7 linked regions of the Homo sapiens genome follow. The protein of the gene in region 1 purifies or fractionates together with the protein of each later gene. This does not show direct contact. Each region holds a gene or a part of one and is shown in the gene's direction. Other genes may lie near its edges.

The links.
Region 2: the proteins of USP34 (region 1) and ZFYVE19 fractionate together in Homo sapiens (co-fractionation; one large-scale study listed by BioGRID). This does not show direct contact.
Region 3: the proteins of USP34 (region 1) and PTCHD1 purify together in Homo sapiens (co-immunoprecipitation; one study listed by IntAct). This does not show direct contact.
Region 4: the proteins of USP34 (region 1) and ANKRD22 purify together in Homo sapiens (co-immunoprecipitation; one large-scale study listed by IntAct). This does not show direct contact.
Region 5: the proteins of USP34 (region 1) and ZNF627 purify together in Homo sapiens (co-immunoprecipitation; one large-scale study listed by IntAct). This does not show direct contact.
Region 6: the proteins of USP34 (region 1) and ZFP57 purify together in Homo sapiens (co-immunoprecipitation; one large-scale study listed by IntAct). This does not show direct contact.
Region 7: the proteins of USP34 (region 1) and ZNF765 purify together in Homo sapiens (co-immunoprecipitation; one large-scale study listed by IntAct). This does not show direct contact.

Annotation. Positions count from the first base shown.
Region 1 is NC_000002.12:61,209,088-61,212,587, reverse strand, and holds part of USP34 (ubiquitin carboxyl-terminal hydrolase 34), read left to right. Parts: intron 1-658; coding exon 659-816; intron 817-3,500. UniProt on the Homo sapiens protein: Ubiquitin hydrolase that can remove conjugated ubiquitin from AXIN1 and AXIN2, thereby acting as a regulator of Wnt signaling pathway.
Region 2 is NC_000015.10:40,812,837-40,815,584, forward strand, and holds the end of ZFYVE19 (abscission/NoCut checkpoint regulator), read left to right. Parts: coding exon 1-66; intron 67-501; coding exon 502-581; intron 582-876; coding exon 877-975; intron 976-1,106; coding exon 1,107-1,234; intron 1,235-1,311; coding exon 1,312-1,390; 3' UTR 1,391-2,248; downstream 2,249-2,748. UniProt on the Homo sapiens protein: Key regulator of abscission step in cytokinesis: part of the cytokinesis checkpoint, a process required to delay abscission to prevent both premature resolution of intercellular chromosome bridges and accumulation of DNA damage.
Region 3 is NC_000023.11:23,386,849-23,390,348, forward strand, and holds part of PTCHD1 (patched domain-containing protein 1), read left to right. Parts: intron 1-3,500. UniProt on the Homo sapiens protein: Required for the development and function of the thalamic reticular nucleus (TRN), a part of the thalamus that is critical for thalamocortical transmission, generation of sleep rhythms, sensorimotor processing and attention. Can bind cholesterol in vitro.
Region 4 is NC_000010.11:88,827,845-88,831,344, reverse strand, and holds part of ANKRD22 (ankyrin repeat domain-containing protein 22), read left to right. Parts: intron 1-2,678; coding exon 2,679-2,786; intron 2,787-3,500.
Region 5 is NC_000019.10:11,600,483-11,603,982, forward strand, and holds part of ZNF627 (zinc finger protein 627), read left to right. Parts: intron 1-3,500. UniProt on the Homo sapiens protein: May be involved in transcriptional regulation.
Region 6 is NC_000006.12:29,678,353-29,682,635, reverse strand, and holds the start of ZFP57 (zinc finger protein 57 homolog), read left to right. Parts: upstream 1-1,483; 5' UTR 1,484-1,574; intron 1,575-4,283. UniProt on the Homo sapiens protein: Transcription regulator required to maintain maternal and paternal gene imprinting, a process by which gene expression is restricted in a parent of origin-specific manner by epigenetic modification of genomic DNA and chromatin, including DNA methylation.
Region 7 is NC_000019.10:53,393,793-53,397,948, forward strand, and holds the start of ZNF765 (zinc finger protein 765), read left to right. Parts: upstream 1-1,356; 5' UTR 1,357-1,401; intron 1,402-4,150; 5' UTR 4,151-4,156. UniProt on the Homo sapiens protein: May be involved in transcriptional regulation.

The DNA of each region.
Region 1 (3,500 bases):
CACAGCTAGTGATTTTACTAAAATATTTGTTTTTACTTTTTATTCATCAGGAAATTGAACTGAGCATCATTCTAGAAAAGCATTTTAAATGTTGGAACAAAGGTTTACCTCATATACACTATTAATTTAAGGGTTATTTAGGCATTTAAAATCTTTGTGACAAAGTAATGATTTCTCATTAATTAAAGAAAAAGTGGATAGGAGATGGTGTGGCATGCCTCTGGGTTTACATTTGAAGTTACAAAAGTAGTGCTTTAAGCAGTAATAAGACTAAAAATGAATTGTATTCACTTACAGTTTTTACTCTTTCTAAACTTGTATTTTAAGATTTGTTGAGTTCTTTTAGTGTTTATTATTATTGTTATTATTTGTATTTTAGTAGAGACAGAGTTTCATCATGTTGCCCTGGCTGGTCTCGAACTCCTGAGTTCAGGCAATCTGCCCGCCTCTGCCTCCCAAAGTGCTAGGCATCAGCCACTGCGCCCAGCCAAAATTTTTTAAATAGAATTTGTTACTGATTTTATAACTTTCTGAATGGAAGTATAATCTAGCTTATTTGTATAATTTTAAGAGTTGATTAATGAACGTAGAAATGAGAAACTGACCTTCTAAAATGCTATAGGGTTAAAAGATCATATGGCTTATTTGGCTTTTTTAGGCAGTAGAAGAACTGTTTAACCTGATGCAGCTGTTTATAGCTCAGAGGCCAGATATGAGAGAAGAAGAATTAGAAGATATTAAACAGTTCAAGAAAACAACCATAAGTTGTTACTTACGTTGCTTAGATGGCCGCTCCTGCTGGACTACTTTAATAAGGTAAAAAGATGTTTTTAGTTTTGTCTTGTTTATTTCCAGTGAGATGAGGACCATCCTTTTGATGTTTAAAGATAAATCATTTACATTGGGGAAGCATTTGTGCATGTAGCCACTTTGGAACATTTTGAAGGTTCATGAACTACTTTTAAACAGTTTTTGGTCTGGCTTTGGTTTGTATTTGTGTATGTTTTATCATTTTAGGGTTGAAGGGAACCTTTATGTATAGCCTTCTACCCAAAGCTTGAATAGTCTTGTTTATGGCAATTTATCCTAACTCAGGCTTGATAGTTCAGTTCTAGAGGCCTCCAGGAAGTTTTCTGCACCTTTGGATGAGTCTGTTAATATTTTGCATTCTGTTTAGCCCAAATATATCTATCTGGCTTTCTGATCTATATGACTTGGCCAAAATTATAAAACATAGTCTTTATAATTAATTTTCAGAGCTACAGAAGTTATTGAATGGTTACAGGAACTACTACAAATTACCCTTAATTCCCCTTAACCTAGAGAAATAAAGTTCAGGCTAATTTCTTAAATTCTTCTATGTATTACATCTAAGACTTGGAAGTGTTGTTTTTTATTAGGCACATTTTTTTTAATGGTACTTTACTGAAGACTTCACTGTAATATCTTAAGCTACTCAATCTAAGATGAGGTTATTTCAGATTGTCTTCTTTGGAAAGCTTTCAAATGTGAGTCTTCATTAGTAAACAGGGAAATTAACTACGCCTTTGCCGGATTTCTTAAAGGGATTGTTTTTAAATTTTGGATTAATTTTGAATACAATTGTTTTCCCAAAGTTTACTACTTAAAGCTTTATTTCAAAAAAGATTTAGAGCAGCCTGGGCAACATAGTAAAACCCCATCTCTATATAAATAAATAAGTTAGCAAATAAATTAGGGTGTGACGGCATGCACCTGTAGTCCCAGCTCCTCGGGGGGCTGAGGTGGGAAGATCCTTGAGCCCAAAAGGTGGAAGCTGCAGTGAGCCATGATTGTGCCATTGTACTCCAGCCTGGGTGACAGAGCGAGTCTCAAAAAAAGAAAAAAAAGATTTGGAGCTTTCTTAACTCTTCTTGAAAAAGGAAAGGAATAAAGTAGAAGGATTTCCAGTTGTAGTCTATAACAACATTTTTCTGGTATCTAATGAAAGAAGACCTGTTAACAGTAATATAGCTGTGTGAGTAATTATAGTCATGTGTTGCATAACAACAGGGTTACATTCTGAGAAATAAATTTTTAGCCTATTTCATCATTGTGCAAACATCAGAGTGACTACTCACACACAACTAGATAGTAGCGCCTGCTACACCCCTAGGATATATGGTATAGCCAACTGTTCCTAGGCTCTAAATCTGTATAGCATGTTACTACACTGAATACTGTAGGCAATTATAACAGAAAGGTAAGTATTTGTGTATCTAAACGTATTTAAACATAGAAAAGGTACAGTAAAAATATGGAATAAAAGACAGAAAATGGTACACTTGTGTAGGGCACTTACCATGAATGGTGCTTGCAAGACTGGAAATTGCCCTAGGTAAGCCAGTGAATGAGTGGTGAGGGAATGTGAAGGCCTGGGACATTATTGTACCCTACTATAGACTTTATAAACACTGTACACTTAAGCTACACTAAATTTATTTTAAAATACTTTTTCTTCATTATTAATGTACTGAACTTTTTTTACTTTATAAGTTTTTTTAACTTCTTGATTCTTCTATCGTAGCACTTAAAACACACTATCATAACACTTAAAACACACATTTTATAGCTGAACAAAAGTATTTATATCTTTATAAGCTTTTCATATTTAAATTTTTTTTCTTTTTAAATGTTTTCGTTAAAAACTAAGACATAAACACACACAATTAGGCTAGGCCTAGCAGGGTTGGGATCATCAGTATCTCTGTCTCCCACCTCCACATCTTGTCCCACTTGGGAGGTCTTCAGAGGCAGTAACTAGCTTAGAGCTGTCATCTCCTCTGACAATGATGCCTTCTTCTGGAATCCCTCCTGTAGGGCCTGTCTAAGGCTGTTTTACATTTAACTTTTTTTGAAATAAGTAGTAAAATAATGATAATATAGTAAATACATAAACCAGTAACATAGTCATTTATTAACATTATCAAGTATTAGGTACTGTACATAATTGTGGTATACTTACAAGACTGGCAGTACAACAAGTTTGTTTATACCAGCGTCATCAGAGACATGTGGGTAATGCATTGTGAATGTTACCATGGCTATGAAGTCACTAGGCTAATAGGAATTTATCAGCTCCATTATAATCTTATGGGACCACCATTGTGTTTGTGATCCATCATTTACCACAATTTCATTTTGTGGCACATGACTGTATTTTATAAACTATTTTCAAGGCTGACACGTTTTTAGTATTTTTTTCCTTCATGTTACTCTTTTTTAATTACCAGCTGATGAGTGTTTAGATAATATGGTGAATTTTATGATTATCCAGAATTTAACAATCAGAAGATGAGCCTATTATAAAAATCAACATTGTTTATGTGGAAACTTTAAAAATATTCCCATATCTTCTGCCATTGTAGATAATTAGCAGTTGATTAGATATTAATAGACTTTTTTTTAGTTAGAGTTTATTTAATATTATTTCCTTATGCTGCATTTCCAGGAAACAGATGAAGCAGTCTCTTTTCTGTAGG
Region 2 (2,748 bases), on another chromosome or scaffold:
GGCAGGAACGGATTCTGGCCCTGGCCAAGCGACTAGCCATGCTGCGGGGACAGGACCCCGAGAGAGGTGAAGGCTGGGGAGCAGCTGCTCACTGGTATCCCTTGGTCAAGGCCTCCCTGGCAGGGCTGAGTCAGGTGCTGGGGGTATTTGCGCCCAGAGATCTACTGAGCCCAGCCCAGAGCCACAAGGAAGGTGGTAGAGCAAAGCAGTGGGTGAGGAGTCAGGGGCAGCCATGAGGGCAGGGGACCTTCAGTCCATTCAGGGGCTGAGGCTTTCGCTCCAGCCCCCAACCTAGCCCTCAGGCCTGCTTCAGTGATGGCCCAGCCCTGCAGGGCTGGGGCAGGCAGGGACAGGTCATCAGGGTGGCTGAAGAGGCTTCTCAGCTCTGGAATAAGTGCCCCTGGGAACCGAACCAGTTCTGGGAGGCAGGAGGGCAGCCACTCATGTGAAATCTCTCACTCTCACTCCCCCATCCCCTGTTCCCATGTCTCCCTCTTCAAGTGACCCTCCAGGACTATCGCCTCCCAGACAGTGATGACGACGAGGATGAGGAGACAGCCATCCAAAGAGTCCTGCAGCAGGTGGGCCTGGATTACCCACCTGCCACCCCTTGTCCCGTCTCCGCCTCATTGCCCCACCTCTACTCTGGGGCTGGGTGGACAGTAACTGTGAAGCTCCTGTTCTCTTTGGGCCCCCTCCTGTGACCCAGACCCAGACCTGCCCACTGGTCCCTGGAGATAGGGAATCAGCAGCCACAGGCCACAAGTAAAGAAAAAGATGAGTTTGAGAAGCTAAGTCCACAGTGCACAGAAATACTGGGAGATGGAGGGCCTGGGCCTGAAGCAGGGGAGTAGTACATCTTCACCCTGTCCGCAGCTCACTGAAGAAGCTTCCCTGGATGAGGCAAGTGGCTTTAACATCCCTGCAGAGCAGGCTTCTCGACCCTGGACGCAACCCCGCGGGGCAGAGCCTGAGGTGAGAAAAGCCCCAGATGCAGACCCCCAGGCTCCCCCCAGCCTTGCTTCCTGCCTGGCTGACTGCTCCTGCAGCAGCTCACATACCCCACTGGGTACCTTACTTCCTCCATTCCTCTCTGATCCCTGAAGGCCCAGGATGTGGACCCCAGGCCTGAGGCTGAGGAAGAGGAGCTCCCCTGGTGCTGCATCTGCAATGAGGATGCCACCCTACGCTGCGCTGGCTGCGATGGGGACCTCTTCTGTGCCCGCTGCTTCCGGTGGGTGCAGGTGGAATGTTCTGTGCGAGAGCTCAAGGGCTGCCTGGATCCCTGACTTGTATCCCTTTGTTCCACAGAGAGGGCCATGATGCCTTTGAGCTTAAAGAGCACCAGACATCTGCCTACTCTCCTCCACGTGCAGGCCAAGAGCACTGAAGACACCCTGGTCCTCCCGGAAGGGCAGTCCCACAGGCAGCGGCACCCATTTCTGGGCCCAGCCACAGGACGTCCGATGGGAGAGCTTGTCTGGCTCTACTGATGATGGATAGGCCCCTTCCTGAGCCTTGGTGTCCCTGGAATGAGGAAAGATTCTCCATTCGAGAGAATGACTGGGAGGGAAGAAGTCGGGGCCCTCCTATTAGAAGCCCAGACTGGAAGTGAGAGGCATGATGGGGAGAGACCAGACTGAATCTACGGGTGAGCCCTGTAACCTGGCTCTAGGGCACAGGCCCCTCCCCTGGCACTTAGTGGGTCTAATAAAGTATGTTGATTCATTGGGCCCAGCATCTCATTTCTACAACCCTATGAGCCTGGGCCCTGTGAGAGGTGGCAGGAACAGAGCAGGCTGTAAGCACAGTTGTGGGGAATGGGGGAAAAGGTTGAGCCATCCTATGAACTTCTCCAGGCAGGAACAGCCCTACCCATCCTGGTGGCCTCATACGAAGTAAACATGTATTCATTCAACTCAACTGTGCTCCAGCTCTGGGCAGCCCCACTTAGCCACCAGTCCCCACCATCTTGGATTTCTCAGCCTCTCTACTACTCACACAATGCACGCAGGAACAATGCACACACACCCTGCTTCCTGCCTTACTGGCAAAGGACCCCAGCTCCTAGGGCTCCTGTCCCAACCTGCCTGCCATTCAGTCTCAGTATCTCTCTTCCAGTAATGCGCCCTAACCGGACCCCTGACCTCTCGGCATGTACCCTTTACATGCCTCTGCATTGCCTCTGCTGTTTCTCTTCCTGCCCCTGGCTGGAACCAACTATAAAGAGCCCTCGGGCTGAGGTCTACCTCCTGCATCACTTTTGGTTGGAAGAGCCTTTTCTGAGGCTCTCAGATCCAGCTAGGTTTTTCCTGTTACTTCCTCTCTGGGATTTGAAACTAGTCTTTGCCATTGGCGTCCCTCTTGTTGGTTATGCCAGTAGGCTGTGTACCTTAGGCAGATAATGTCTGCTTGGCCCCGAGGCCTTGCTAGATTGTGATCTCTCTGAAGTGGAGCTGTGACTTTCGTCTTTGAATTCTTGAGTCCTTTGGATGGATGGATGGATGAGGTGTGTGGGCACAGCCAAGTGACTTAGGTTGTGGCCTTCCTGTGTATCACTTCATTCTCTCCTCCCCTGTCCCTCAGCACAGATATGTTCCACACTCCATTGAGCTGGGGCTCCTAAAGGTTTTATCCACTTGGCTGCCAAGGAAGGCATTGGACAACAGCCAGCTTTCTCCCAGAGAGCCCAGCTGACAGAAACTAGCTGTGACCACACAGACAGTAGGAGTATGCAAATGTCCCTCC
Region 3 (3,500 bases), on another chromosome or scaffold:
AAACTGAAAGATCATCCATCAATCAGCAAGCCATCCCATTTCCTCCTTCTTAGCCATTCCTTACTTTGAGGAACTCAGGATGAGGAAATCCTGCTAGTGTGGAGAGGTTTAAAATGTGAGTAGCACCCAGCGGCATCTCTCAGCTGCTGTGTTGTGGCTATGTATACTGGGACAGGCGCGAAAATCTGGGACTGAAGAAAAATCTGACTTACAAAATCCAGAAGTATTATACAAAGTAGATCAATTTGCCTACGATTATTCATTGAAAACCAAACAACAACAAAAAAATCACCCAGACTGTCTCCAATAGCAAAACCACTAAATACATTTAAAATATTATTCACTTTATGAGCAACTTTCCAGAAGTATATCTACTGGGTAAAGAAAGGTTAACTCTCAACTATTTGTTAGTAGATTCTGTCTTACCGGATTATAAACAACCCTGAAGGCTTTGGTCAGGCCCCAGAAAGTTCTGGGTGACAGAATTAATCTCTGAGGGTGCTTGATAGTCACCCTCAGTGATGGGAGGATTAGCCAGTTGAATTTTTTTTTCCGCCATTAGTGTTATTTATCATGTGTGCTTCTTTTTCCCTTCATTTGCTCCAAAGTCTGAGAGTTAACAACACATTCAGATATAAAAATTCTTTTGAGAATAAGAAAAATTATTAGCCTAAATTCTTTAGTATTTTATTTTATTAGATGACAACCCCAAAGTGTACTGCAAATAAAATTAATAAAAGCAGTTTTCTTTTTAAAATCACACTCCCGGCCCAAATTTTGCCTCAACATTAGTGAAGAGCCCTGCTGGCCTGACAAAAACCTCGAGCTGCCTCAGAGTATTCACTCACGAATAATTAGAACTTGGCGCTCCCTTCAATCTCTCTCTCTCTCTTTCTCTTTATGTGTGTGTGTATGTGTTTTTACATACTGATATGCATTTGTTCTTATGCATGTAACAATACAGACATGCAGGGTAACAAAAATAGAAACAAACATCTTGAATATGCTTTTAAAGGACAAGAGAATGCTTTAGAAGCATTTTTATCTTCAAAATCTGATAGAATCAGTATGTGTTTAACAGTTCCCGTTGGCAACTCCTCAGTCCTGCACTGTGACTGTAAAAGAAGGAATCCCCTGGGATGTTGTATCATCCAGGGTAATCCTTGGAATGTGAGGATGTCAGGATGTGGAGGTTCCTGATATCCTCACTGTGATATATAGTCTTTTTACCCCAAGGTCTCAGGCTGCGACCTGGCCCTCAAATGATGAGTCATGACTCCCAATAACACCACAGGGTCCCTACTGACCAAAATCAAAATCTGTATTTAGGTAGCTCTGCCCTGGCCCCACCCCATGAGTTCTGTCACCAGGGAGTCCTTGTGAACAGACTTGGGACTTTGGAGATGGGAAATTGTTATTTGCCAAAGTCATGCTTTGTGCCAATGACATAGGCCCACTGGTCAGATTTAACAGAGAAGCTTATAGAACTCCTACTTTGTAGAGAAGTTTTTAAAACTAGAGTGCAAAGCAAACAGCAGTACTTTTGCTTTTAAAACACCTTTTTAAAAAGTAGGAAACAACAGTCAGACCTCTGAAAAGTATCTTCAGTCCACATGCAATATCTGTTTGCCTACGTCTGTAAGATTTGGCGTCAGAGTTCCGCTTGCTGAACTACAGCCCCAAAATTAGGAGAGTGGGTTGTGCGTGGTGGCTCATGCCTGTATAGAATCCCAGCACTTTGGGAGGCCGAGGCAGGCAGATCACCTGAGGTCAAGAGTTCAAGACCAGCCTGGCCAATACGGTGAAACCCCATCTCTACTAAAACTACAAAAATTACCTGGGCGTGGTGGCATGTGCCTGTAATCCCAGCTACCCAGGAGGCTGAGGCAGGGGAATCGCTGGAACCCGGGAGGCCGAGGCTGCAGCGAGCAGAGATTGTGCCACTGCACTCCAGCCTGGGAGACAGAGTGAGACTCCGTCTCGAAAAAAAAAAAAAGCAATGAATGATGATGATGCTAAAGGAGGTAGCCATCCACTGAAAGAGGAAAGTGGAGAGGAACAGAACCTACCAAAATCTATCTTCTCTGCCTCTCCTTGACTCCAGGTGGCCCAGTTTCTGGAGTGCTAGTAAAAGATAAGGTCAGACCTGACTGAAGGAAAAACTGAAGAAATTCGTCTCTGTGAAATTCTCCTACCTGCCATTTCCTCTTTATTCCATTCCCATGTCCATTCTCTGTCCCATTCCCCAGACCTAAGGGAAGCTGCTTCAGTAGACCACTGTCCCAGAGGAGTTTACATTTAAAAGGATACCCTTGAAAGTTCCAAGGGGAACTCGGATATAATTCCGGCATTCTGGAGGGCAGGATGGTCCTCGTGTCCTAGGGCTTTTGGAATGTGTCTCCCCTTGAATCCAGGCCAGAACACAAGAGTCCTCACCGATGGCCTTTCCTATAGGATAACAGGCCGACCTCTTCAGCAAAAATACCCAGCTATGAGCCAGGACAGCTGCCAGCCAGGCACTCCAGGCTGTTAATCCTTAAGAGGTGACCACAGCTATGTTAGCACTTGTCCCTCCCTTGACTGACAAACCTTCAGGAAGGAGGCCCAGTTATGGTATCAGCAATTGTCCCAGAAATCCAAAGGGCTCTTGTAAGATGCTGTAGAACTCCAGTTTGGGGATTCGGGTGTAGCAATCTGCTCGAGAGGTGTGGCTTGAGAAAGGAATCTGACCTATCAGGAATGGTGGTCGGGGCCTTTGGAGGCAAAGTCAGGCACAACTAGCAACAAATGCTGAGTGATCGGTTAGAACAAATTCTTTCTCAGGGCCTCTTCTGATTTCTGTGAGTGGCTGCATGTACACACCTGTAGCAAGAAGGAAGAACTAAGGAAAGGCATCGTTTCCAAAAGCCCCTCAGAAGAAAATTAGAATTCTCTTTGGAGCTGCCCCCAAACCAAGAACATATGCAAAAAGAGCCAGGACTCAAAATAAAAGATCAAACTATAGAAGGACAAGGCATTTAAAATGCAGCAACAGAACTCAAGAGAGAAGCTAACAGCCTACTTCCACCTTTCCTTGATTTTGATTACTTTCATTCTTGACCCTGGAGCCTCAGTCTTGTCACCTAATATCTCTGTTAATTCAAATTCCTTTTCTCAATTAGCTTCTAAGATTATTCAACAGCAAGGTATGAAATTGATTCTTATTGTATTTTCCAAAAATCAGGGTCAGATAATGTCATTATAAAACATCACACTGATTTTTAAAAGAACTGCAAAACAGATTTAAGTTCTATTATATGACTAATTCTAATTCCGCTATATGCTTTATTTTCTTGCCATATTTAATAACTCAGTACTAAAACCCTGTTTAAATTTTTTGTTTCTGGCAAGTAAATATCATTAAAAAATTATTTGCCATTTATAGTGATCCCCTGAAGTGTGCTTTGCCCACCAAAGCTTACTTGCTCTACATGGCCCCAGGAAAAAAAAAAAAAAAACAA
Region 4 (3,500 bases), on another chromosome or scaffold:
TGAGCCAGAGGTTACTTGAAGTCACACAAAAAGGTGTAAAGAATATATTTAAAGATGCAATATTAGCTACTTTGGAGCCTTCAGGACCAAGAAAGAGAAGAATATGTGTGTATTGCTGTGAAAATCCTTGTGGAGCCCTTTCTGAACATCTAGCATTTGCATCGTAGTGAAGGCAATATTTAAATTACACTGAATAAATATTAAGCCATTTTTTTGCAATCATTATGACTGTCCTGTACCCACTTATATGCATTCAAGGCGAGAAAACACTGGAAATCCCCCCTTGCCCCTTCTAAGTCATTTGGAGACTAGCTCATCAGGAGTAACAATGTATTATCAGAAAATTGATCATTACTGGACTTTTTTATTTATGCTTACTATTTTTGGTTTGGTTGCGATTAAAAGCAAGTCATGCCTGTGCTGAATGGAACAGATATGCAACATCGTGGACTATAATAGGATCTCTGTAGATCACTGCTGTGAAACCAGATATGTGGAGTTGCAGTGAGTGGTAGTGCCAGAAGACAGATGTCTGTGGGTTCCTGCGCTCTTTTAAGAGGTGCGCTCGTTAGGAAACTGAGGGAGGAGACGTTAGCCCATGGGCAAGGCTGAGGAGACACTTTTATCTCCGCTTTGCAGAAGAGGAGGGCCTCAGCCAGCCTGCTGGGATTTTCTGGTATCATAAAAACCATGAAAAAGACTTTAGTGGATACATTAGATTAATAGATTTTATCAGTAGAAGTTTTTGGTTTGCATTTTCCACTTTCAAATGTTTCTAATGTTAGCATTTAATATTTTTATTTTCTCCAAATATTAATATTTGTACATTAATAATTTGAACCTGTGATTTCTCATGTCTGAAATCTGTTTATAAATTATTTCCAGAAACACTAAACAAACAAACACCTTAAAAACAAACAAACAAACAAAAAGCTCTGCTGGAGATTCAGAAGCACAAGCCTATGGATTCTATTGATAGCAAATTAAATTAAAACATAAAGATCCTTGTTTTTGTCTGTCAAACTGACCAAGATTAAAAAAGAAAACAAATGTTGATCAGAAAGTTTAAGTTATTATTGTCTTATTAGAACACAATTTGATAGCGCAATATGAAAAGCATTAATACTTTTTATGCCAGGAATTCTATTTTTAGAAATGTAGGCAAAGGACAAATTTGGAAATGTTGACAAAAATTTATGAATGAGCAGGTTCAGGCAATATTATTTATAAAAATGAAAAGTTTAAAACTTGAAACGGGCCATGTGCAGTGGCTCATGTCTGGAATCCCAGCATTTTGGGAGGCCAAGGTGGAAGGATAGTTTGAGACCAGGAGTTCAAGACCTGCCTAGGCAACATAGCAAGACCCCCGCATCTCTACACAAAATAATAATAAGTAAAAAATTATCCAGGTGTGGTGGCACATGTTTGTAGTCCCAGCTACTTTGGAGGCTGAAGTTGAAGGATCGCTTGAGACCAGGAAGTCAAGGCTGCAGTGAGCTAGGATTGTGCCACTGCACTCCCGCCTAGGTGGCAAAGCAAGATCCTGTCTCACAGAAAAACAAAAACAAAAACAAAACCCTCAAAAACCATGAAATGTTCAAAAGGCAGGGCTTAGCTAAATACATCAGAGTAGTTCCACTCAATACTAAGCCATGCAGCCATTACAATCATATGTTTAAAAATATTGAATTGCATGGAAAAATGTACATATTCTAAATATACGTTTCTGAACTGAAAAAAGCAAGATATGATATTGCATATGCAATATCATTCTACATTTCAAAATTCCACATTTATGCATTTAAGAAGACTGGAAGAAAATACAACAAAATGTCAACAGTTAACTCTGGACCATTTAATATAATAATGGGCAATTTAAAATTCTATCGTTATGTTCCTCTCTAGTTTCTAAAATTTTTTTACAGAAAATATAAATGCCTTCATATTAGAAAAACAAAAAGTGTTCTTATTTAGGTACAGTGCCTTGCATAAGTGGAAACTAACCTCCTTTCTTTCTCTTGGGCTCCCTCTCCTCTTACTGATTTGATTGGTATTCCAATTACCACCTTCTGTTTTGCCTTATATTTATTTGTGCATATTTCTGTCCATCTTTGATTATGAGGCCCTAAGAGTTCACATCTCCCACAACCCTTGGAAGCTGACATCTATTACCTGATAAGTATTCACATATTTGAAGAATAAAATTGAGTTATATGCATTCTTCTAGACTATGCACATGAAGGAACATGAAAAACAGCCATGTGGTTAAGAGTTTTCCTATGAACAAACCACAAAATGGATAATCGTACACATGGTAGATGATTAAGGGATAACTATCAATTTTCATAGTAAATTCAGTCCTAAGTTTATATCTCAGTGTATCTTTTTTTCCAAAAACTAAGTGGGTATAAGAATCTGTCTTCTGATGAGCTCTGCTGTGTACATTTCACCTTTGTTGACTCCCAGGAGCCCTTCCCTAGCTTTTCCTTTACACTGGACCGAGTTCTCTGTTCTGCTCCATGGAAAGCCGCATTCAGTAATCAGATGTATCCCACAGGAAAAGATGCCATGGGTACCGGAAAAACAAAAAGCACAAACTAAACTTTTTGAGATGGCCATCTGAATAAATTTTGAATTGAAATGCTTTATTAGTAAAGAATCCTTTTCTTAATTTTTAGAAAGAGAGAACCTGCTTGCATTATGCTGTGAAGAAAAAATTTACCTTCATTGATTATCTACTAATTATCCTCTTAATGCCTGTTCTGCTTATTGGGTATTTCCTCATGGTGAGTACAACACTTGTAGAGCAAAGGGCAAATGTGGAGATCGATGGTGTGACTCATTGACTCTTGCCAGGCCAGTGAGATGTTGAAAAGAAATAAAAACAAAAAAAGCCTTTGGTTTGTATTCTGTAATTGACATGTTCAACATACATCCAATGCTATAATTGAAGTACAGCAAGAAGAAAGCTAGCAAAAATAGTTAATCAATGGTAACATAATCCATGCAATGTTGATTTAGAAAAATAATTTAACCTTAACTAAGACTTTTCTGAAGGGAGCAAAAAAATTCTGAATATTAAAAAACACCCCTTCTAATATTTTTTTCTCCTTTTTTTAAAAGAGGAGTTTGTGTTTTTGGATTTATCTTTCTGACTTACTGATTTTTAAGTACTCCTCTGGTGGTGTGTTGAAAAACAGATCCTAAAAGTTTGCATCCAGAAGCTGACACACACAGAAGATACTTGTTGAGAATTTAAGCCCATTTTCACCTTGATGAATTTCTTCATGCTTGGATGAATCTTGGCAGACAGCAATTTTCTTGAATAAAGAAAGATGTAGTTGGTATAGAGATGCAGTCATATGAGGAGTAGAAGATGAAGCTTGAGATGGTTTTTGGTTTTTTTTCCCAATAGGGTAACAGATCTGCACTGACTTACTCACTTTTATCCATCTAGTTTCCTTTGTGCCCAGTTCCACTTCTCAGACATGACTCAAGAG
Region 5 (3,500 bases), on another chromosome or scaffold:
TAAGTTTCTCAAGTATGTTGTTTTTTTTTGTGGGGGTGGGGTGTGGTGATTTAAAATGGAATTCCAGGGCTTAGTGTTGGGAATACTAAGGAAAAGAGAGAGAGAAAACTCTCTTCTATCATGACTGCAGAAAATGAATACATTTCCACAAGTAAGTGTAGCAAATAAATTGGTGAATTACAGAGATTCACCAAAACATCAATTCCTCTGCTTTGCAGGGTGGCAAACTTGTGACAGTGGATAACTGTTCTCTTCCTGTTATCTAGACATCAGAGTTTAATGCGAAGTCCTAGTAGGACAGGACTTGGTAACTCCTAGAAGTGTTCCAATATGATTTAGTACATGATTTGTTACCATAGAAAGAATAAATAACATGTTTATTGTCTGAAGAGGATGGATACTTTTACTTTTCCTGTTAAGGTATGAAATATAAGTGCCTTACAATTTCCTTCCTTGCTATAAACAGTGAATTTGAGTGATTTTACTGGAATCTTCAAACCCTGGGTATTTTCTCATTGAAAATTAAATGCATAACCTTGACTGGGAAACAGAGACAGCAGACTAGTGACTTGAAACTAAGACCAATCTTGAGCCTTCAAAGAGAGGACATTACAGGCCCAGTGGTTCTTGCTGAGGAGCCTCCCCTGCAGTGTCCCAGCTGCTCACAACTGACTTTGGGTGGAGCCCTTTATAGTGAGAGAAGCTCAGAGCCCTGGAAAGCTGGGGATTCATAGGCAGAGGTGGTTGAGGTGATGCCTTTCTGAGAATGTACTTGCTATTATCTTGGGTCTGTTTGTAGACGTTTCTAATGAAACAAATCTGGATTTAGGTAAGGAGTGATTTATTTTATTTTTATTTATTTATTTTTTTTGTGTGTGACAGGGTCTCACTCTGTCTCCTAGGCTGGAGTGCAGTGGTGCGATCATAGCTCACTGTAGCCTTGATCTCCTGGGCTCAAGGAATTCTCTCACATCAGCCTCCCAAGTACCTAGGACTAAAGGCATGTGCCATGATGCCTGGCTTATATTTTTAAAAAAGTTTTTTTAAGAGAGACAGGACGTTGTTATGTTGCCCAGACTGGTCTCTAACTCCTGGCCTCGAGCAATCCTCCCACCGTAGCCTCCCCAAATTCCAGGATTATGGGGGTGGGGCGGGGAGCACCACCACACCAGACAGGAATGACTATTCTAAAGGATAATCGAAAGGGGAGAAGGCACCAAGTATAAAATCTTCAAGCATCTCAGGCTGGGCGTGGTGGCTCACGTCTGTAATCCATGCACTTTGGGAGGCCGAGGTGGGTGGATCACAATGTTAGGAGTTTGAGACCAGCCTGACCAACATAGTGAAACCCCATCTCTACTAAAAATACAAAAATTAGCCGGGCATGGTGGTGCGTGCCTGTAATCCCAACTACTCGGGAGGCTGAGGCAGGAGAATCGCTTGAACTCAGGAGGCAGAGGTTGCAGTGAGCCGAGATCGCGCCACTGCACTCCAGCCTGGGCGACAGAGTGAGACTCTGTCTCAAAAAAAAAAAAAAAAAAAAAAAAATCTGCAAGCATCTCAGAGTTTATGCAGAAAAGGATTTTCTTTTGTAGGGAGGAGCAAATGATGAGAAAGAAGGTGGGAGGTGGAAGGCAGGATGCAGGGTGCAAAATCCCACCTAGATCCTGAAGGCAGTCTCTTCTTAGGAGGGTCATCAGAGGGGTTGTATATAGGCTCAGGCTGGGGGTGGGTCAAAGTTCAGGGGCTGGAGGAAGAAGAGAAACTTAACCAAAGTTTTGTTAACAGGTACTTTGTTCTGACTGATCACTGAAGACAGAGCTGTTCAGCTAATCAATTGTGAGGAAAATAAAGGGAATTTCTAGTCTGTGTATGGCTTTGTCATAGGTAAAAAAGCAGTGTCATCTAAGTCATAATGAGAAGAGTGTTTCTTTGCGTAACCTGCTCCTGCAGAATACAAAAGACGGGGGAGTTTCTTTAACCATAGCTATTTCCAGGATTACATACCTGCCCAATCTTCTGCCGCCATTTTCCCTTACATCCATCCCTTCCATTTCGCCATTTCTGATTTATATGCAGTTGCTGAGAAGTATGGGTGATCCCTGGGGCTTGTGACTGGCATCTGCAGTGGGGCACTGTTATGGTAATGAGCCCTGAACTTGTGGGGTCCCCGTTAACTCTGGGTAGTGTCAGAATTGATTTGAATGCTTAATTGGTGTTGGAGAATTGGAGATTTGGTTGTGTTCAGCAAACACCACACATTTGGTGTCAGAAATGGTATATGAAAAAAGACACTAGAGATCAGAACCTTCACCTGGCTCTGGGTAAGTGTTCGCTGGTGAGAATTGAGACCCTGGAGGAGGGAGCATTTCCACACTGTGAGGAGAGGAGAGTGGGTTGTGTGAAACACCTGTGGACTCACTACCCAGGTTCATAAATGGGCATTGGGCATTTCTGGTATGTCCTGATCTTGTCTCCCGTCTGTACCCACAGGTGACCAGGTCCTCATTTTTAAAAGGTGGTTCTTCATAGTTTTACCATCTATTTATCATTAGGCTGAATTTTGCTTGGCTCTTCCTCTTTTGAATTTTTAGTAAGTTATTACCATTAATATTATGCCAAAAAGAGTTTTTTTTTGGTTTCTTTGCCTGTTTGTTTCACGCATGCTGGTTTCTGCATTTAGTTTGGGGGTTAGGATTTCAGCAAATGAAAGTTTGGGCAGGGGATGGTGGTGGAATACAAACATTCAGTCTGTTAACAATCCTAACTGTATTTTGTACGACATCTTGGCTATTCTTAGCCTTTTTTTTTTTTTTTTTTGAGATGGAGTCTCACTGTGTAGCCCAGGCTGGAGTGCAGTGGCGCTCTTGGCTCACCGCAACCTCTGCCTCCGGGCTCAAGTGATTCTCCCACCTCAGTCTCCCAACAAGCTAGGACTACAGGTGCACAGTACCACACCAGCTAATTTTTGTATTTTTTTTTTTTGTGGAGGCGGGGTTTTGCCATGCTGTCTAAGCTGGTCTTGAACTCCTGGGCTCAAGCAGTCCACCCAGCTATGCCTCCCAAAGTGTTGGGATTATAGGTGTGAGCCACTACGCCCGGCCTTATTTTTGTCTGTTTTTTGTGGAAGTGATATCATCCTATATGTTATATTGTATGCCATCTGTCTATTTCACATAGCTGTGAATCTTCCATGAAATGGTATTTTATTCACTATTTTACTTAATAAACTTTATTTTTTAGACCGGTTGTAGTTTGACAGAAAAATTGAACAGATAATACTTAGAGTTTCCTTATTCTCCTCCACAGGTGATTGTTTTCCCCTACTTTTCTTTTTTTTTAAGAGACGAAGTCTTGCTCTGTCACCCAGGCTTGAGTGCAGTGGTGCGATCACTGCTCACTGCAGGCTAGACCTCCAGGGCTCAAGTGATCCTGCCGCCTCAGCCTCCCAAGTAGCTGGGACCACAGGTGTGCACCACCACATCTGGCTAATTTTTTTT
Region 6 (4,283 bases), on another chromosome or scaffold:
CAGCACTTTGGGAGGCTGAGGCAGGCAGATCATGAGGTCAGGAGTTTGAGACCAGCCTGACCAACATGGTGAAACCCTGTGTGTACTAAAAAAAAAAAAAAAAAAAAAAAAATTAACCGGGTATGGTGGCACGCACCTGTAATCCCAGCTACTCAGGAGTTGGAGGTTGCAGTGAGCTGAGATGGCGCCACTGCACTCCAGCCGGGGCAACAGAGCGAGACTCTGTCTCAAAAAAATAAAAATAAAAAAATAAAAGAAATCTTTTCTTCATCCTTCATGAATGTCCTGTCACAAGGTTTATCAGCAGGCATTCTTTTTTTTTGTTCTGTTTAGAAATAGGGCCTCACTCCATTGCCAAGGCTGGAATGCAGTGGTGCAATCATAGCTCACTGTAACCTCAAACTCCTGAGCTCAAGCAATCCTCCCACCTCAACCTCCTAAGCACCTAGGACTAAAGGCATGTACCACAACACCTGGCCAAGTTGTTTTCATTTTTTCTAGAGAAAGGGTCTTGCTATGTTGCCCAGGTTGGTCTTGAACTCCTGGCCTCCAGCAATCCTCCCTCCTCAGCTTCCCAAAGTGTTAGCATTCCAGGAGTGAGCCACGGGGGCCCAGCCTAGACATTCTTTAGTACTATAGTAATTCAGATAAGATGCTCTTGAAAGAACACTTGCCCAGTAACGGCAATGTCTCCCAAGTAGCTGGGATTACAGGTGTGCGTCACCACCACCGGCTAACTTTTGTATTTTTAATAGGGACAAGGTTTCGCCATATTGGCCACGCTGAGGTCGAACTTCTGACCTCAGGTGATCCGCCCCCTCAGCCTCCCAAAGTGCTGGGATTACAGGTGTGAGCCACCGCTCTCAGCCGCGTGTTTTAATCATAATACTTTGGTCTTTTTTTTTTTTTTTCGTAAATACTTTCCTCTTTTTTTTTTTTTTTTTTTTTTTTGAGATGGAGTTTCACTCTTTTTGCCCAGGCTGGAGTGCAGTGGCGTGATCTGGGCTCACTGCAACCTCCACCTCCCGGATTCAAGCGATTCTCCTGCCTCAGCCTCCTGAGTAGCTGGGGTTACAGGCGCCCGCCACCACGCCTGGCTAATTTTTGTACTTTTAGTAGAGACGAGGTTTCGCCATGTTGGCCAGGGTGGTCTTGAACTCCTGACTTCAGGTAATTCACCAGCCTCGACCTCCCAAAGTGCCGGAATTACAGGTGTGAGCAATCGCGCCCAGGCTTTTTTTTCTTCTTCTTTTAGAGTCAATTAAGACTGGGAAAGCGAAAATCCTAGCGCTACTTGGGACCAGCAGCTATCAGTTGGTCGGAGGCTCGAAGTGGTGGTGCATGGCCGGGCTGTCTGTGATTCTTAGGATGGGAAGCTTGACCTTGGCGGGCTCACCCTCTCATCTGGGTCAAGGGGCACATTCTCGGTGGCCTGATGACTGGGAGGGAGCGGAAGAGGGCGGGGCCGGGGTGGGGCCGCGGCGCCGGGACTGCGGGTGCTCGGCCGGAGCGCTCCAGCCGCTGGTCCCCGGGAGACCCTGTGCCCCTAAATCGCGGTCCACTGCGCGCGTCAGGTGAGTAGAGCGGCGGCGGGGAGTCGCGCTAGCGGTAGTAGAGGCTGATGTTGGATGTTGTCCCCACTCCTCTGACTCTTCCGCAGGCCAGGGGAGCACTGCGCCCCTAATCTTGGAGGGGCTTCCAACCTCTGGGGTCCTCCGGGGAAACGTGGGTTAGTCTGGGGTGTATCCAGGTGCCCTGTCCACTGTGGGCACTCTGGGGATTCCGGGCCGAGGAAGGGCTCCTGGCACGTGTTGAAAAAGTCGGCATCCCAGAAGGAAGATTCTGGGCGGATGGGCATCGGGGAAGGTAGTCCCAACCAATGGGACCGTTTCTGAGCACATAAGCGCATTCAGTGGGTGCTAACAAGCGCCTGCTTTGCCAGGCGACAGTGAGCAAAACCGGCTTTGTTCCCGGCCACCGGAAGCTTCGAGGCTGGGGTTCCGGATCTGGGCGCCCAATGACAAACTAAGCGCGGAGGACAGGGCCAGGAGCGCCCACCAGGGCGGCGATCTGGTGGGTAGGTGCAGGGCAATGGCTGGAAAGGGTCCCCGAAGCCCTGAGCAGAGACCAAAGGGCCGTGCGACTGCAGGAAGGCCATTTTGCTTGGCTGACAGGCGGAAAACTCACGTGGCTGGAGTAGCAGGGTTGGTGACGACAAGGGTGAATCCCACTAAGCATTGCAACTGTTTGCGGTGTGAGGGGTGAGGGGGATTCTCATCATTCTCAGAATTGCTGTGGATAAAGGGTTTTGGGTTGGAGAGAGACTGGGTGCACTCAAAGGACTGAAAGATGGCGACGACACATTCCCTCAGAGGATTTACATTCTGGAAGGGTGGGGACAGGCCCGGGTACAGATAAGCCCGCAGGCGGCCTCCAGCTCTTACAGTCGAAAGTCTGATGAGTTATGCCCAGTCTCCTTCCTCCTCCCGCCGGCATGAGGTTTGGGGCCCTGTGGATGAAGGAAGTTCATGGGAGGCAAACGTGCCTGGGCAAGCAACAGCCGCAGAGATTCAGTCCCCACGGGGGTTAGAATCCACACTTAGGGCCTCTGCCTACCGCCTCCAGCAAATGCCATCTTGAGGACTAGCGGCAGCAGTAGGTCTTCTCTGCCAGAGAACTGGAAGGCCAGGTTCTTGAGGGCACTGTTACTAAGGCGTTTTTTTTTGTTTGTTTGTTTGTTTGTTTGTTTTTGAGACGGAGTTTCACTCTCATTTCCCTGGCTGGAGTGCAATGGCGCGATCTCCGCTCACCGCAACCTCTGCCTCCCGGGTTCAAGCGATTCTCCTGCCTCAGCCTCCCTAGTAGCTACGATTACAGGCATGCGCCACCACGCCGGGATAATTTTGTATTTTTAGTAGAGACGAGGTCCATGTTGGTCAGGCTGGTCTCAAACTCCTGACCTCAGGTGATCCGCCCGCCTCGGCCTCCCCAAGTGTTGGGATTACAGGCTGAGCCACCGTGCCCAGCCTTATTAAGGCTGTTTTGAAGTGCAGTTGGCTGGAAAGTGGAAGAATAATCCAAGATCTGCATGCCTCATAAAAGGAGTGCGAATGGTTTTGAAAGACAGGAAAGGAAAGGGAGAGAGAGGAAAGAAAGAGAGAGGAAGAAAGGAAGGAAATCAAATTCATATCCCAGGAATGCACCTTTCATGACAACATTTTGGAGATCCAATTAACTCTATTCCTCGAGGGCGTTTTTCCTTGCTGGTATTTTCAGTTCTATTAACACTTCTCAAAAAGTGAAAGGAAAAAATAGTCAACAGGGTTTTTTGGTCTTTATTCTTTTCTTTCTATCTCTAGTAAGGGAGATGTGGGTGAGTGGCTGTCAGCAGGAAAAGGTGAGAGTTCAGCTATGTTTGCATCTGAGCAGGAAATTTCCAAGGATGAGCAGGGAACTCCAGTGCTGGGCTCATTGTGAGCCCTGAATAAGTGATTGCTCTTGGGTTGTTAGCAGTATTCTTCACAAAGATCTGTATATACAGTGGTTCCCCTTATCCACAGGTGATATGTTCCAAGAGCTCTAGTGGATACTTTGTTTTTGTTGTTGTTTGAGGCAGAATCTCGCTCTGTCACCCAGGCTGGAGTACAGTGGCACAGTCTTGGCTCACTGCAACCTTCACCTCACGGGTTCAAGTAATTCTGCCTCAGCATCCTGAGCAGCTGGGACTACAGCGTGCCACCACGCCCAGCTAATTTTTGTATTTTCAGTAGAGACGGGGTTTCACCATGTTGGCCAGGCTGGTCTCAAATTCCTGCCCTGAAGTGATCCACCGCGCCCCACCCCAGTGGATACTTTGAAACCATGAATAGTACCAAACCCTGTATACACTATGGTTTTCTTTTTCTATACATACATAATAATGATAAAGTTTAATTTACAAATTAGGCATGGTAAGAGATTGACAACAATAACTAGTAATAAGATAGAACAATTACAGCAATATATTGTAATAAAAGTTGTATGAATGTGGTATCTCTCTCAAAATAATTTATATTGTAAATCTTAGCAACCTCAGCATATGATTATTTTTTCTTTCCTTAAGACAAGAATTTTTACCTTTTTATTTTATGGCTTCTCTTTGCATATCTGAATTTCCAGCGTCTCTACTCTTGTGCTTTTGGGTCATTATTAAGTAAAATAAGGCATTCTTGAGCACAGGCAACTGCTATACTACAGTAGTCAACCTGGTAACTGAGATGGCTAGCTACTAAGGAACTAATGGG
Region 7 (4,156 bases), on another chromosome or scaffold:
AAGGGTGTTGTCAAGTCCTTTTCCCTGAGGACTGATTAGTGTTTATCTTGAAAACATGTACTTAATGGGTTGTATAGAACTGTGAAGTGTCTTTCTCTTTTTTCAACCTCTTAGCTCTTTGCCTCTATTTCCCATCACATTCTGGTCTAAGGCTTACTTATTAATAAAATGGTGTTTATTTCTTTCTCTATTATCGTCATGGAGATGTTTTGTCATTTGGGGGAAGATTTTTTTGTTTCGTTTTCAATTGTATTTTCTTAACAATTAGAAAGTGAAGTAAAAAGTATTTGGCCAGGCGCGGTGGCTCCCGCCTGTGATCCCAGCACTTTGAGGAGGCCCAGGCAGGTGGATCCCTTAAAGTCAAGAGTTTGAGACCACACTGGCCAACATGGTGAAACTCGTCTACAAAAATACAAAAATTAGCCGGGCATGGTGGCACGCGCCTGTAATTGCAGATACTCTGGAGGCTGAGGCAGGGGAATCGCTGAAACCCAGGAGGCAGAGGCTGCAGTGAGCCGAGATCCCATCACGGCACTCTAGCCTGGGCGACAGAGAAATACTCTGTCTCAAAACAAAAGAAATAAGTAAATAAATAAAGGAATAAATCTCTTCCAAAAATGTGCTGAGGCAACTAACTGGATATCCACATGGAAAAGAATACTGTTAGATCCCTATCTCACACAATCAAACTCTTATTTTAAAACGTTTAAAAAAAAAGGAAAAAAAAGAGAGAGTGACGAGGAAGGGAGCCCTGCGGGAGGGGGTGTTACATTGTCGCCCAGGCTGGCCTGGACCCCCAGGCTCAGCAATCCTCCCGCCGCTGCTTCCTGAGTAGCTGGGACCTCAGTCTCCCGCGCCCGCGCCCACATCCCTGCTGTGTTTATCCAGAAGGTGGTGACCTCACTCCTCGCTGGCCTGAGCATTCCGTCCCACATCCCAGGCGGTGGCCCTAGGGAAGTCTCTGCAGCTGAGCACAGGGTGGACTCTCCCTCCCAAGTGAATGGAGACTGGAAAGGGAGAGGATTTCTATTCTGTTTTGTGGGCTGTCAGCATGAAATCGTACGTTCCATCCAGGCAGGGCTTTGCATTTTACATTCCAGTTTGCATCCCCGTTCCAGACAATTCCAGGGCTTTTGAATCATGCCTCAGCCTTCCTGGCCGGTCTCGCCTCCAAAACCCGAAAACTGAGGCCCTGGGAGCCAGGCTGAGAGACTCACAGGTCCCGCCACAGCCCCGCCCTCTGTCGGTTCTAAAGGGTAAAGTCTCTCTGCCCCGCCCCTACCTCGCCCAAGCCCGCCCACCTCCTCGCGGGTCCCGCCCAGGCCTGGCTTCTTTCCTGCGCGCGCAGCTTCGCGCAGACCCGGAAGCGGACGGCGTGGAGTGACTATCCCACCGCCGCGGGTGAGTTTCGCTCTGTTTTGTATTAAGTCTGTGCTTCCCAGGTCCCTGGCGCTTCTGTACCTGGGGCGTGGGGTCTCCACTAACCTGGAAATTCTCAGCCGTCTTCCTTCACCCAGAGCAAGTTGAGACGACCCCGTGAGAGTCCGGGGGTCGCTTCCTTTTGGGTTTAAGGTCCCCCTGAGGCTGGTCCCGTCCCGGGTGTTTCTGCTATAGGGCAATGTATACACTTTCTATCACGTAGTTTTCCTGCTCTGAAACTTTTTCTGACTCCTCCCGTCCCGCGCTTTTTAAAGTCCTCACCCGAGAGGTGAATTCCCTCCCTGAGCGCCTCCCAGTCTCGCCCTCGTTGGCAGCTGGACGCAGCGCGGCGGCCCCAGCCCCAAGGAGGCCGCGTCCTCTGTCTGGTCCTGGGATCCTGCAGACCCCACCCTTGTCTTAAGGCGCCGTGGCGCCGCCGCCTCCCTCCTTTTGCGGGCCCTACTGCTCCCCAGGTTCGCCTCCACAGTCACTGCTTTCCCTGAGCCCGAGTTAGGGAGGTGCCCGGGGCCTGTCCTGTGACACGGGGTGTTCTTGCCTGCCCAGCTCCAGCCCCTGGAAAATGCGCTCCCCCGGGATGCAGGCGTTTTGCTCCAAACCCTCCTGTGTCTTATCCAAAGCCTCCGGTGCTTGTGTAGGCTAAAGGGATCAGGAGACAGACGTAGAGCAGTAGAAAACCTGAGACAGAAAAGAAGAATAAAAAAGACTCATAACAGATGGCAAAGTAGAGGATGGGTGAGGGATTTGCCAGACACAGCAAATGTGGGGGAAAAAAAAAAAAAGGAGGAGAAAAGCAACTGGAGAAATGTAGAGAAAAGGTAGATGTACAGAGAGATGAAGGACAGAGAGCAAGGTAGGGAGAGGGACAGCAAAGAGGGAGGCTCATCAGAGTGAGGGAGAGGAGGAGGGATTTGGAGCCAGGGCAGACAGAGCAGAGTGGTGCTGGTGGCAAGGAGAACAGAGGGAGAAGCACAGCAGGGAGGACACCTGGGGATCTGGGGTGCTAGAGAGTGGGGATGAGGGTATAACAGGGAAGAGAGAATGTAACAGGGAGAGCAGAGGAGGCGCAGAGATGGTGTTGCGGGAAACTAAGTACTAGAGAGACCGGTATGCGGGAGACAGAACGATGTTTATTTAAGGTACGCACCGGCTCAGTGGATTTACATCTAAAAAGCTGAGCATTTCAACAAAGACAGAGTGGGGTTTTTATAAGCAGGCTTACAGAAGCAAAATAAAAGCAGTTAATCATGTAATGATTGGTCACATAATCTATAGCATAGCATAACTTGTGGCCTTGCATAGCTGGTGGTCTTGTAGCTGCATTGAAAGAAAAACAAGAACAGCTAAATACAGACTTTTTTTTTCTTCACTCTTGTTCTAAAGTGGGGTTTTCTGGAGCTCATTCCTTTGGCTTCAGCTGCACAAAAAGCGTTATCTTATAACTGTCCTTGAAGTGAGCTTGCTAGGCAGAGGAAAACTTGTTCTTCTTTTCTTTTTAACCCTTGCCTTGCCTGTTAGTTTTTTGGAGTGAATGAATGCATATTGATTTTTTAAATTTCTGCCTCAGTTTTCTCCCTTTGCTGCTTTTTATAAATAAGGTTTTAATAGAAAGCACCACTATTACTGGATTCTTCATGAAAGAGCAGGTTTTCTTCTTTAGGCACAGGCTGATATTTATATGGAGCTATTAGCTGAGTGGTAGTCTGCCTAGTCACAATTGCTTCTATAGTTGATTGAACGTTCTTAACAAGGAGAGGTGAGGTAAGGGAGTATTAAACCAATTCTTAGTATTTCTAGAACCACTCCTGTTAAGGTTTTGAATCGACTGAAGGAGGAAAACCAGCCTCTAAAGAGGGACTCGGGAGTCTACTTTGTCTAAGTCTGGACTGGAACATGGGATAATTTTTTTATTCTTGCAGTTACTTCTATAACAGCCTTCCTATTGTCATTGATTTCTAGGCAGCAATTAGTTAGATTAAACTTTCTACATACTCCTCCTTCCTAGGCTAGGAGGTAGTCGAAAGCTAATCTATTTTGGTAGATGGCATTTCTCATTTTTGTGGCTTGCTGGGCCAGTAAGTCTAATGCATTTGCTGTTTCATTAGTGATGATTCCAAGTACTGCTTGCAACTTTATGATGCGGTTAAGCGTGTAAACTTAAGTGTGCCCGGCTCAATTTTTGAATTTTTAGTAGAGACAGGGTTTCACCATGTTGGCCAGGCTGGTCTCGAACTCCTGAGCTCAAGCGATCCTCACACCTCAGCCTCCTAAGTAACTGGGACCACAGACACACAGACGTGCACAACCATGCCTGGCTAAGTTTTTGTACTTTTGGTAGAGATGGGGTTTCACCACGTTGCCCAGGCTGGTCTCAAACCTGAGCTCAAGAGATCTACGCACCTCGGCCTCCCAGAGTGCTGGGATGACAGGCATGAGCCACCGCACCCAGCCTTTGCATGAGGTTTGGTCAGGCCTGGGTCTGTGCCCTAAAGGGGAGCTCATCCCACCCCAGCTCCCCACTGCTGCAGCGTGTGTGTGGGCTTCTCCGGGAGGGGAGTGGGAGTTTTCCTGTAGGAGTTTATTGTCCCTGGTGTGGTCGGCAGCATAGGGGACCGTATGTCCTCAGGATGAGGTCTCCTTTGTATGTGTTGTTGTGTTACAGGGAGGGGATATGTTGATTCTGAGCAATAAACAACATATTTCTAACATTCAGGATTGA